2 separate regions of the Homo sapiens genome follow, and region 2 is linked to region 1. A link means that fine-mapping ties the variant in region 1 to the expression of a gene that starts in the linked region. Tissue or cell type: whole blood. Region 1 holds a variant in brackets; the other region holds the start of a gene. All regions are shown on one strand. Distances are from middle to middle.

What was found. PIP is the estimated chance that this variant, and not a neighbour inherited with it, causes the effect.
Region 2: SLFN5 starts here. The variant in region 1 is fine-mapped to the expression of SLFN5 in whole blood (TOPMed, PIP 0.99).

What each region holds. Positions count from the first base shown.
Region 1 is chr17:35,153,725-35,160,116 of GRCh38, reverse strand. UNC45B (unc-45 myosin chaperone B) reads right to left here. Exons shown (of 20, transcript NM_001267052.2): 6 at 5,376-5,543; 7 at 4,653-4,821; 8 at 572-742. Among named protein-coding and RNA genes, the nearest start is that of UNC45B, 9.1 kb to the right of the region's middle. The variant C/T (reference allele first, on the strand shown) is at 2,784.
Region 2 is chr17:35,239,939-35,245,456 of GRCh38, reverse strand. SLFN5 (schlafen family member 5) reads right to left here and starts at 2,385. Exons shown (of 5, transcript NM_144975.4): 1 at 2,314-2,385. It overlaps LOC105371932, which reads left to right and starts at 1,306. Exons shown (of 4, transcript XM_047437262.1): 1 at 1,306-1,346; 2 at 2,238-2,535; 3 at 2,632-2,831; 4 at 3,487-5,414. The coding sequence starts at 1,306. The coding sequence ends at 3,934. RefSeq lists enhancers at 1,342-1,970, 1,944-2,053, 2,574-2,633.

The DNA of each region.
Region 1 (6,392 bases):
TTTCCCCTCCAGGCTGTCTTTCCCCTTGAAATATTGAAGCCCTTAAAATCATCTTTGGAGAAAGGCTCAGACCACAGACTGTTTCTGTGATTCTGTGTTTCCTCTCTGCGGGGCATGTCCGTAATCTTGGCAAAATAAACTTCTAAATTGATTGAGACCTGTCTCAGATACTTTTGGGTTTACAAACATTCTCACTGTGCTTTATATAAACTATACTTGATGCAATTTCCTCCCTTTTGAAAGGCCTGTGAAGTATTTTACCAACCATGAGACTTCTGGAATTTTATCCTGTGGTTGGTGGAGTCCTTGTCCCCATTTGCTAGGTTGCTTCACCCACATGTTTTGGGGATGTGTTTGGGCACTTCCTGGGCATGTTCAGGCTCTGAATTCAGAGCCTTGACCTGCACCTTCACAGGCCCACTGGTGGATCCTGATGGGCCAATGCCTTTTCTCATCTTTTCAGTTAGAACTGAAGACCCCTTCAAGAGCCTCACATCTTCCATTTTCTGTTCAGTGCCCTGGTGCCCACTTAAAAGGCTTGAGCAAGCCCCAAACCTTCCCCTCTTCTCACCATTATCCACCACATAGATGGTACGTGAGTTGTCATGAATGGCAAGGTCCTTCCTGGGAACATTCTTATTGAGCAGGTTCAGCGCCTGATCCCTGCCCTGGCCAGACACCTTCTTGCTGACTAGCATGTCCAGCAGGTGGCTGGTGATCTGCTTCAGGTCCTTCTTGGTGTCTGAAGAAAAAGAGGACGGGGTAAGTAGAGAGGGGTAGGAAATCTCACATATATATGACCAAGAAGAGCAGCAGCTTCTAGACTCTGGAAGTACTGAATCCACTACTTCCTGAATATGTGAATTCCCAGGGGAGTATAGTGTTGCCCATCTCACCTGGAAAAAGGGAGAGAAATCCCTAGACAACACCCCCAAGTGGTCCTCCAGCCACCCTGAACCCTGACTTCTACAACAGCTCATTCCATCCTTGAGCAGTTCAGATTCTTAGAAAGTTCTTCACTCCTACCAGTGACTGGCAGAGATCCAGGGATGCTTTATGTGGTTTCTAATAAACTGATTTAATAAAATGCTTTCCAGAAGGGGAATTTGTACTTTTTAGGGACATTTCACTCCCCACAGATTCAGGCATGCTGGGAGCCTGAATTCAAGCTTTTGCCTGTGACGCCGGGACTTCCTGCCCACTGGTAGATCTTAAAAGGCAAATGCCTTTTTTTCTGATTTTGCCCTCCAAGATACTTAGAGATTTTTGTTCTCATTCTAGGATGGAGCCCAAAGGCAGGCAAACCAAAAAGTAAAGCTCTCCAAACCATGTCAGATAAATAACTGATGAAGGAATACAGCTCCATCGCCTAAAGAAGGAAAGATGTAAGCAGATGTGACAGTTCGTCTTCAGACAGAGGCATGTCATGAGAGTGAGATAACAGACTCCTTCTGTGAGGCTCCAGAGGGCAGACTTTGGACCAGAGGCAGATGGAAGCTACAAGGGGATAGAGTGGAAATCAATATGTGGAAGAATTTTGTAGCAGAGATGTTCAACCCAAGGAAGTCATGGAAGATTGTGAATTGGTGTCTCCCTGGGAAACACGACACTCATTATAAATGCTCTTGGGTAATCTCCTCCAACACTGGCCCTGGGCTGCTTATGTGACCTGTGGCACAACCAGAGGCTTACATGGCACTTGCACATTGGGGCTTGTCCATTTAGAATCCAGCCACCATGTTCTATAGAAACCCAAGCTGGCCACTAGCAAGGCCACAAGATCAACAAGGTCACAAGGCCACAAGGTCAACATTTCCAGTTGACTGCCAGCCACACAAGCAGGGCCATCTTGGATCTTCCAAAAATTCTAGCTCAGAAAAGGAAAGTGACTAGCTGACCATTATAATAATAGTAAGTCAGAGTCACATCAAGAATCCAGGACTTCAGGGCTGGGCGCAGTGGCCTGTAATCCCAATATTTTGGGAGGCCACAGCAGGAGGATCACTTGAGGCCAGGGGTTTGAGACCAGCCTGGGCAAGAAAGTGAGACCCTGTCCCTATGAAAAATTTAAAAATTAGCCAGGCATGGTGGCACGAGCCTGTAGTCCTAGTAACTCCAGAAGCTGAGGTGGAAGGATTGAGCCCAGAAGTTTGAGGCTGCAGTGAGCTGTGATTGCATTACTACAGTCCAGCCTGAATGATAGACAAGACTCTGTCTCAAAGCAAACAAACAACAAAAAAAAACTCTTATAGACAAATAAGAACAACATTAAGAAATAGGTAACAACATGAACAAACCATCCAAAGACAAAGGAATCCAAATGGCTAATAAAGATACAGAAAAATGATCAATCTGATGAATAATTTAGTTTGAATCTAACACGATAATTTTGAATCTACTGGATAGGCAAATATCTTTAAGAAGGATAGCATTCAGATCTGATGAGAATGTGTTAAAATGGAGACTCTCATCATTGCTTGTGAGAGTATAAATTGATGCAGCCTCTCAGAAAGGAATTAGAGAGCAAGATATAGAAAGAACATTAGTTATTCTCATAGCCTTTGACCCAGTGCTCCTTTTCTAGGAATTTGACCCCAGGAAATAATTATAAATGTGGCCAGGTATGGTGGCTCACACCTGTAATCCCAGTACTTTGGGAGGCAGAGGCGGGCGGATCACCTGAGCTCAGGAGTTTGACACCAGCCTGGCCAACATGGTAAAACCCCGTCTCTACTAAAAATACAAAAATTAGCAGAGGCTGAGGCAGGAGAATCGCTTAAACC[C/T]GGGAGGTGGAGGTTGCAATGAGCTGAGATCGTGCCACCGCACTCCAGCCTGGGCAACAGAGCAAGACTCCATCTCAATAAATAAATAAATAAATATAAATAAATAAAAATAAATTATAAATGCAAGCATAGATGCAAAAATGGCTCCTGGAGAGTTTTGTATAAACATGCAAATTGGAAATAACTGGAATCTCCAATAATATAGAGCTGATTGATGAATAATCCATACAAGGGAAGATTATGATATTCTTGAAAATAAAGTTTTCTGAGTGAACCTGCCTCTTTGGCCCTCCCAGCCAGAGCAATATCTTCTAAATTGATGCCTAGGACCTGGATGTGCACGGAGAAGCATGAGTCTGTATGTGCATATGCAGGAAACAAATGTAAAATTAATTATTAAAATCAAAGGAGTCCTTTTAAAGAATATTAAATGGTATGCAATATTAATATAATGCTCAGTGCAGAAAAAAACATATAACTATTCATAGCAGAATTCCAATTTTGTTAAATATTGATGGTTTAAAAAAAAAGAGAGGAAAGATCCATGTGGTAATGGTAATAGTGATTACCTGAATGGGTAATTATAGGCATTTATTCTCATTTTTACGTAGTTCTATATTTTCCCAAATGTCTTCAATAAGCCTCTGTTACTTTTTTTAAGCTGTGGTAAAATTTACATAAAATTTACCATTTTAACCTTTTTTTTTTGAGACGGAGTCTCACTCTGTCACCCGGGTTGGAGTGCAGTGGTGCAATCTCGGCTCACTGCAAACTTCGCCTCCCCGGCTCAAACGATTCTTCTGCTTCAGCCTCCCAAGTAGCTGGGATTACAGGCATGCGCCACCATGCCCGGCTACTTTTTGTATTTTTAATAGAGACAGGTTTTCACCATGTTGGTCAGGCTGGTCTTGAACTCCTGACCTCATGATCCATCCACCTCGGCCTCCCAAATTGCTGGGATTACAGGAGTGAGTCGCTGCACCTGGCCCCATTTTAACCATTTTTAAGTGTTCAGTTCAGTGGCATTAAGTATATTCACATCATTGTGCAAACATCACCACAATCTATCCACAGAATGTTTTTCATCTTGCAAAACTGAAACTTTGTCCCCATTAGAAAATAACCCGCCATTTCCCCTCTTCCATCCTCTGCCAAACACTATTCTACTTTCCATCTCCATGAATTTGACTACTCTAAGTATCTCATATGAGTGGATTCATGCAGTATTTGTCTTTTTGTGGCTGGCTTATTTCACTAGCATAATGTCCTAATGTTCATTGACGTTGTTGCATGTGTCAAATTTTCCTTTCTTTTCAAGGCTGACTAATATTTCATTGTATGTATATACCATATTTTGCTCATCCAGTCACCCACCAATAGACGCTTGAGTTGTATCCATCTTTTAGCAATTGTGAATACTGCAGCTATGCCTGTTACTTTTATAATCAGAAAATACATATAACAGGCCAGGTGTAGTGGCTCATGCCTGTAATCCTAGCACTTTGGGAAGCCAAGGCAGGCAGATCACCTGAGGTCTGGAGTTTGAGACCAGCCTGGCCAACATGAAGAAACCCTGTCTCTACTAAAAATACAAAAATTAGGCAGGCATGATGGTGTGTGCCTGTAGTCCCAGATACTCGGGAGGCTGAGGCAGGAGAAGTGCTTGAATCCAGGAGGTTGCAGTGAGTCTAGATCGCGCTACTGCACTCCAGCCTGGGTGACAGAGTAAGACCCCATCTCAAAAAAAGAGAAGAAAAGAAAATACATAAAACCAAGCCACCCCCACATACAGGGAATTCCCAGTCTGAGGTAGCAACTGACCTTTTCTTTCCCCATCCCCTTGAATCAAAACTGAAGAATGTTTCCTACCTAGAACCAGGGCCTCCTCCTTCCCTCGATGCTCCCGCTTGTCCTCCCCAGACAAGGAGTCAATGATGGCTTGGAGCAGGTTGCAGACAGCCAGAGACATCTCCTCATTCTCCACGGCCATGAGGCTACAGATTCGGTCTATCCGCACTGCATGCAGAATCACTGTGGCCTAGAACCCCAGCAAGAACCATGGTCAGCTGCCTTGCCCCTCCCTTCTAGCTGCCATGCAGGTTAGAGAGGGTGTGATAATCCTCCCCACCCTATCCCATGCAGTAGAGAAATCAGCCCAGGCAGCCATTGCCTCATGGGCCCCTCTGTCCTGGAAACCTCTTGACAACAAGCCATGCCCATCTCTGGAGGTCAGAGCTGTGCCATCCAATACAGTGACCACCGGCCACATGGGGCCGTTGAGCTCTTGCACGGTGGCAGGACCATATGGAGATATGCTGTAGTGTGAAATACACACTGGGTTTCAAAGACTTAGCATGAAAAAATGTAAAATATCATAGCCTTTGCATTCATCACTTCTGCCTTAGGCACTTTCAGTAACTTGTCTTTGCTTAGTGAAACCCATTTCCAACTGAAAGGGAAAAAGAGACTGGAGCACCCTTTGACTTTTTATCTGGTTCCATTGATGCCAGCCACAGCCCTGACCACACGTCACCCTCCGGATCCTTGGACCAGCAGTCGTCTGCTCCACATGCCCCACAGCCGGGCACTTACTCTGGCTTGGTGGCCGCTGCACATGCCCGACAGGGTCCGCACTGCAGCCAGCACCAGCTCAGGCTTCTTAGTGTCCAGAAGCTGCAGTAGCAAGGCTACTCCATTGTTCTGGAAGATCTTCTCAGCCCCTGCTTCCTCACGGCCTAGGACAATGAGATTGTTGGCAGCCTGAAGGAGGAAGAGGCAATAAGGGTTACGAGGGAGGTACGGCCACCCAGGCCTGGACCATGGGCCAAGTACAAGAAGAGCCAGTGCAAAGACTGGATCTTCAGAACATTGTTCTATTATCTCACCTTGGTAATCCTCCTCCTGGAAACACAGCCCAAGAACATAATTCAAGAAAAAAAGCCAAGTAATTTGCATCAAGACCAGCTGGATGAAATATATTGCAGCCATTAAAGTCATGAATAAAAAGACTAAGAGCAATGGAAAAAGCATTGGTATGCAGAATCAGGATCAAATGTTTACTCCAATTGCACTTATGTTAAAATAAAGATGTATATAATGCTTACAGAGAAGGACTAGAAAAAAGGTGGAGAAATGAAGTGTTTTTACATGGAGAATGATTTCCTTAAACATTTTGTTGATTTTCCTGTTCAGGGGAATCTGAAGTTCCCAGGAAGTGAGCAGCAAAAACACTAGATGGGACCTGAAAGCCCTGGGTTTGAGTTCTGATTCTGCTCCCTGCTAGCTGTATGAGCTTGGGTGAGTCACGGCACTTCTCTGGACCCCAGACTCTTCATCTGTAAATTTAGGCAGTTGAGCAAGCAGGTTCCCAAGTCTCTTCCCACCTAAAGCCTTCCAACTTAAGGATGCATGAACCTTAAAATAAAAGGCTCCAGGTCTCAAGCAGGACCTGAGAACCCAGGGCTGAGAAACACAGGAGGTGGAAGAAGGGGAAGGGGAGGAGGTGGGCAAAGAGATGTTGAGTTGGGTGCTGGGGAGAGGGCTGATTAGAGAATTCCAGGCAAGCGTGACCAGAACCATCACTATCAACTAAGGGCTTTGTACTTTTCC
Region 2 (5,518 bases), 86 kb before region 1:
ATATTAAATGAAAAATTCCAGAAATAAATAATTTATAAGTTTCAAGTTTCATTCTGAGTAGCCTGATGAAATCTCATGCCATCCACTCCCTCTCACCCCAGGACATGAATCATTCCTTTGTCTGGTGTACTCACCCCGTATATGCTACTAGCCCTTAGTCACTTGGTAGCCTTCTTACTTACCAGATCAACTCTAATACTGCTTATGTTCAAGTAACTCTTATTTTATTTAATGGCCCCAAATCTCCAGAGTAGTGATGCTGGCAATTCAGATATGCCAAAGAAAAGCCTTTCTTTAAGTGCTTTCTTTAAGTGAAACAGTGAAAGTATAGGGAAAAAACACATTAGATATAGGGTTTGGTGCTACCCATGGTTTCAGGCATCTGGTTTTAGGCATCAACTTAGGGTCTTGGGACATATCCCATGGTTAAAGTGGGGCTGCTATAAACACGTGTGAATTTTCATAATCAGGCCAGGAGTGGATCACAGCATTTTCCTCTTCTTCCTCTTACATGGAAATAATAAAACTGCTTATTTTCTTAAACAAAAGAGTTTAATTCTTGTGACTTTTTTTATGGTGGGGGGAGGGGGTGGTTCAAGCAATTCTCCTGCCTCAGGCTCCGAGTAGCTGGAATTACAGGCATGTGTCATCACATCCAGCTAATTTTTGCATTTTTTGTACAGATGGGGTTTCACCATGTTGGCCAGGCTGTCTCGAACTCCTGACCTCAAGTGATCCGCCCACCTCACGTGATCCACCAGCCTCAGCCTCCCAAAGTGCTGAGATTACAGGCATAAGCCACGGCGCCCGGCCTCTTGTGACATTTAAATGAATACTTCTGACACAGGATGTTATCACACTGAATTGCTTGTCTGTTATCCTGCCACAGGAACTCTCACCTCCCATGAGACAGACAGATTAGGAATCGGCTTCTTTTTCCCCCACAAAGGCAGGCACAGCCTCCGCCCCCTTCTCATAGGGCGAGGCCAGACAAACTTTAGCCATTGCTCTCATCTTCTCCTAGAGGCTTGGCTCTAAACCAACGCCCTCCCACCCGCTATTGGTAGGGGAGGGGAGGAACTATTGAAAAGTTCCCCCCATCCTCCCTCAAGCATCCCTTCCTGCCTGCACTAGTGACAAAGGATCCCCTTCTGGTGCAACCGAGCCCCTCAAGATTTCAGCACCCCAACATTTTTAGTGATGAAACCATGAAAATTCCGATGAGGCCCTTGCTTATTTGCATATGTTAACTACCCACTTTTTGCCCAATATTCCTTTTTCTAGCAATATAATTATAAACTGCTGATGCACCGTTTCTTTGTCAAGCAGGAGGATATAGCTTCAGAGTCAAGAAAAAAATTTTGCAGAAGGAATGAATGCCTTTAAGGGCATTGTGACCAGCTGCTGACGCCCAGAAGTCTGGTGGTTCAAGATGTAATCTGAGACGAAGAAAGACTTTTCCCCGAGGTTCCCTGAAATTCCCCCTCCCTTACTTCCTGGTCTCATAAAAACTCCCCACTACTTCTTTTTGTTAGGGTGGATTTGAGAGATCTTGACCTCTTGCCTTCTCGCTTTGGCCAAATGGAATAAATCTTCCTCTGTCTCCAAGCATCTGTGTGTCAGTGTTTGGCATCAACAGCACATCAGGTTCCTGAGCCTGAATTTGGGCTTCGACAACTCGGGCTCCCGGGACACATGCAAGAGGGAAACGGAATCACACCGCAGTCTCAGCCACTGCGGATATGACCAACTAGGGCTCTAGTTAGTCACTGTATGGGGGATACAGGGCTTTGTGGGCTACCCTAGTAGCCTGCCCCTGTTGTTACAGTTTGAAGACTGACGTTCCAAGCCAGGGGCTTATAGGCAAGCCTCTGGAACAAAGCCTCTTGTAATAGACTGGACATTGGCCCTATTTGTCCCCAGGCCACAACCCATTTAACTTCATCCTCGGGAGCCCCGATTTCGTCGTTTTCCCTTAAGTCCTTCGTGCTCCTGAACCGTGGGGAAATGTTGCCAGGTTTGGTTTGCTAAGATGTAGGCTGCGCTGGGTCGGCGCCTCTCCCTCCTCCCCAGCTCGCCCCGCGTTCCGAACCTCCCAGCTCCCGGGTCCTCTGCCACTAGCTGTCGTTGGAGGTGCTCCTGAGTCAACAAACTAAATCTCCCCAGCGGGAAAGACTCTCTCCCGGCAGCGCCCAGACCTGGGGAGCTGCAGTCGCCGCACCTTGTCTTCACCACAGCCCAATAGGAGAACCCGCGCAGACCGGGGGGAGGTTTGGGGAAGGCCTGGGCAAAGAAGCGCGGGGGATTCATTACCCGCTGGGTTCTCCTCGGCAGCGCGTCTCCCTCCGGGAGCAGGCAACGGAGCCTCCCAAGTCCAGAGCAGAGAACCTGACCCGGCGGGATCCCGGGCTTATATCAGCTGAGTTCCGTGACACCTCCCGGGGCGGGACATCGCGCAGGAGACAGACAGAGGTACAGCCCAATCGCATCGTTACGTGGAGCCGGAAGCCCACTCTTGCAACTACAACAGTCTTGGTAAACCTTGGGTGGACTGGGGAGAACTGAGGAGGGGAAGCGCTTTTTTGTTGCTTCTCTGTGTTTTCTATTTTATTTTATTTATTTTATTTTTAGATTTTCAGTTCTTATTTCACCCAGGGAAGGAGACCTGGGTATCCACCCCATGTCCTCCAGAGAACTTCCCTGGCCCCGCTCGGAGTCTTCCTGGGACGCCACAGGCTCGGAGAGCGCTCCGCAGGTTTCTCCCCCGGCGCCTCCAAATCTTTCGATTCCTACTCGAATTACTCCGTCAGCTGCTGGAAGAGGGGCAAGGGGTATGGCGAGACGCGTTGGTACATGGGGCACTGGGGGGAAGGGAAAGCCTCCCTCCTTCTCCTAGTAATTCGAGAATGTTGCGTCCGCCTCCTTTCTTTTGCTGGCGCTAGGGGCTCGGACCAGCACCTGCCAGGCATAGGTGTGGCCACTGGGGCGAAACCTGGCAGGCTCTGGAAACAGCGTTTTACTGACAGGAAAGAGAAACTGTTCTTTGTATTCATCACCCACCGCAGACTTCCTCACGCCCGGGTCTTAGGCGGGGCTGTCAGATTTCAGTGTGTTTCTCTTAATTCTAGTACTAAATTTGTACTGGGCGCTGGCGAAGGGCCTGGCTCCGCCACGCGCGGCCCTCTCGAACTGCCCGTGGGTACGGCGCGCGCTGCTGCCCTGTGTGGCCTGTGCGGGGAACCCGAGGGCCGAAGTGGGCCCCGCCGCAGCACAGGGGGACAAGAGAACCAGGAGCGGGCTGCCTGGGGGCAGATTCGAACCCGTGCTCCCAGCGGATAGAAGTAGCACTTGGGGACTCCTAAAATATTCAGCCCAATCCTGATTCCAGCTGCCCTCTCTAGGCACCTTTCCTCTACCCTTCTTCCAGTTTACAATTCTGGTGAGTAGATGTTTCTCTATCTCTTCTCTTCCAACTCCTGCGCCCAGAGCCAGGAGGACTTCTGGAGCCCGCCCAGCAAGACCCTCTCTCTCCCATCTTCTGCTCAAGGGCTCGAGGTCTCAGTGGACAGAGCTGAAGAAAAGCCGTCTATGGAGCCTGCGCCAGGCGCAGACTGGGTCGTCGCAGTCTGGGTCGTCGCAGTCTGGGCCGGGGCGCTGGAAGTCTTACTCACTTCTCAAGAACCCGCAAGGGATCAGGCCTGACCCTTTGCAAGTGACAGAATCCAAAGCTTTGAGCTCATGGGAAAGTGGCTGGAAAGAAGGTCACTGTAGGGCCGCACAGGTCTCTGGCGAGGCTACCCAAGAACATTTAAATCCCTGCCCAGAGAAGAAGAGGCTCCAGCTGTCCTGCACCTTCCTGGGAACTGGCAGTCCCTCCGCGCAGGGGTTCTGCAGCGACCGGCAGCGCGAGGAGACAAGGATGGTGGCCAGTTAACAGAAAATCAAGGCAGCGGGAAAGGTCTGGAAAACACCACCTACTATCACCTCTGGAGCCTGGGATTATGGGATAAGTTTTCGATTTTTAAATGTATTGTCAAATAGCTAAAGTACACGGAAAGTGCGAAATAATAGTAAATTGAACACCTGTGTATTCACCACACAGCTTAAGCAATAACATTAGCAATATTTGGGTACCCAGCTGGTCTCATTCCCTCATTCCACTTGTCCCCTACTCACCTGATAGCCAGTACAATTTTATGAATTTAAAGTTACTAATTCCCATGCAACTGTTTATACTTTTAGTAAATGTGTTTATGTCCCTCATCAACACATGACACTGATTCAACACATGTATATGCGTTTAAGCTGCATGTAAATGGCATCATGTTGGCCAGGTGCAGTTACTCACGACTGTAATTCCAGCACTTTGGAAGGCTGAGAGGGAAGACGGCTTGAGGCCCAGAGTTTGAGACCAGCCTGGGCAACATAGCAAGACCCTATCTCTAAAAAAAAAAAATTGTTTGTTTGTTTGTTTGTTTGTTTGAGACGGAGTCTTGCTGTGTCACTCAGGCTGGAGTGCAGTGGCGCAATCTCGGCTTGCTGCAATGTCGGCCTCCGGGGTTCAAGCAATTCTCCTGCCTTGGCCTCCCAAGTAGCTGGGACTACAGGCACATCCCACCACGCCCAGCTGATTTTTGTATTTTTAGTAGAGACAAGGTTTCACCATATTGGCCATGCTGGTCTACGAACTCTTGACCTCATGATCTGCCTGCCTCGGCTTTCCAAAGTGCTGGAATTACAGGTGTGAGCCCCCGCGCCCAGCCAAAAAAATTGTTTTAAATTAGCTGGGTGTGGTGGTGCCTGCCTATGAAGTCCCAGCTACTCAGGAGGCTGAAGTGGGAAGATGGCTTGAGCCCAGGAGTTGAAGGATGCTATGAGCTCTGATTGTGCCACTGCACCCCTGCATGGGCAATAGAGTGAGACCCTGTCTCTTTAAAAAAAAAAAAAAAAGTATCATATTGTATGTGTTCTGTAGAACTTGCTCCCACACTTTAACATTTTGCTTTAAAGATTTGTTCATGTACTTAGATCATTCCTTTTCACTGCTTTATGAGCTGAATCATTTCTGCTCTTCTTTCCATCCATACCCATTGGTCTCCAAAGTATCCAGGCCTCCCCAAAAGTTCCTGCAGGAGACCTCAGTTCCACTGGCTTTCAGGTCATTATTGTTCCAGCACTACTTCTCCATTTCTGGTTCCAGCCCTTCTCTCCCACATTCTCAAGCTTCTAGAGGGTCATAAGAGAGGAAAAACGCCAAATGCCTTTGATAAAATGTTGCCTTTCCAGTGGTATGCATGTTTGTGTGGAGTGGGAGGGAAGTGAGGGCAGATGTGACTTACTCTCAGCATTAATTCAAGTTTAAAAGTAAAATCTTTAGGTTTGCCTTGTCCAGTAAAAAATGCCAAGAGCCATAACTGCTCATTCTCTCTCTCTCTCTCTCTTCTCTCTCTCTCCTCTCTCTCTCTCTCTCATACACACACTTGGTTAATGCAATATTTACGTTGTTTTTGCTTCAACA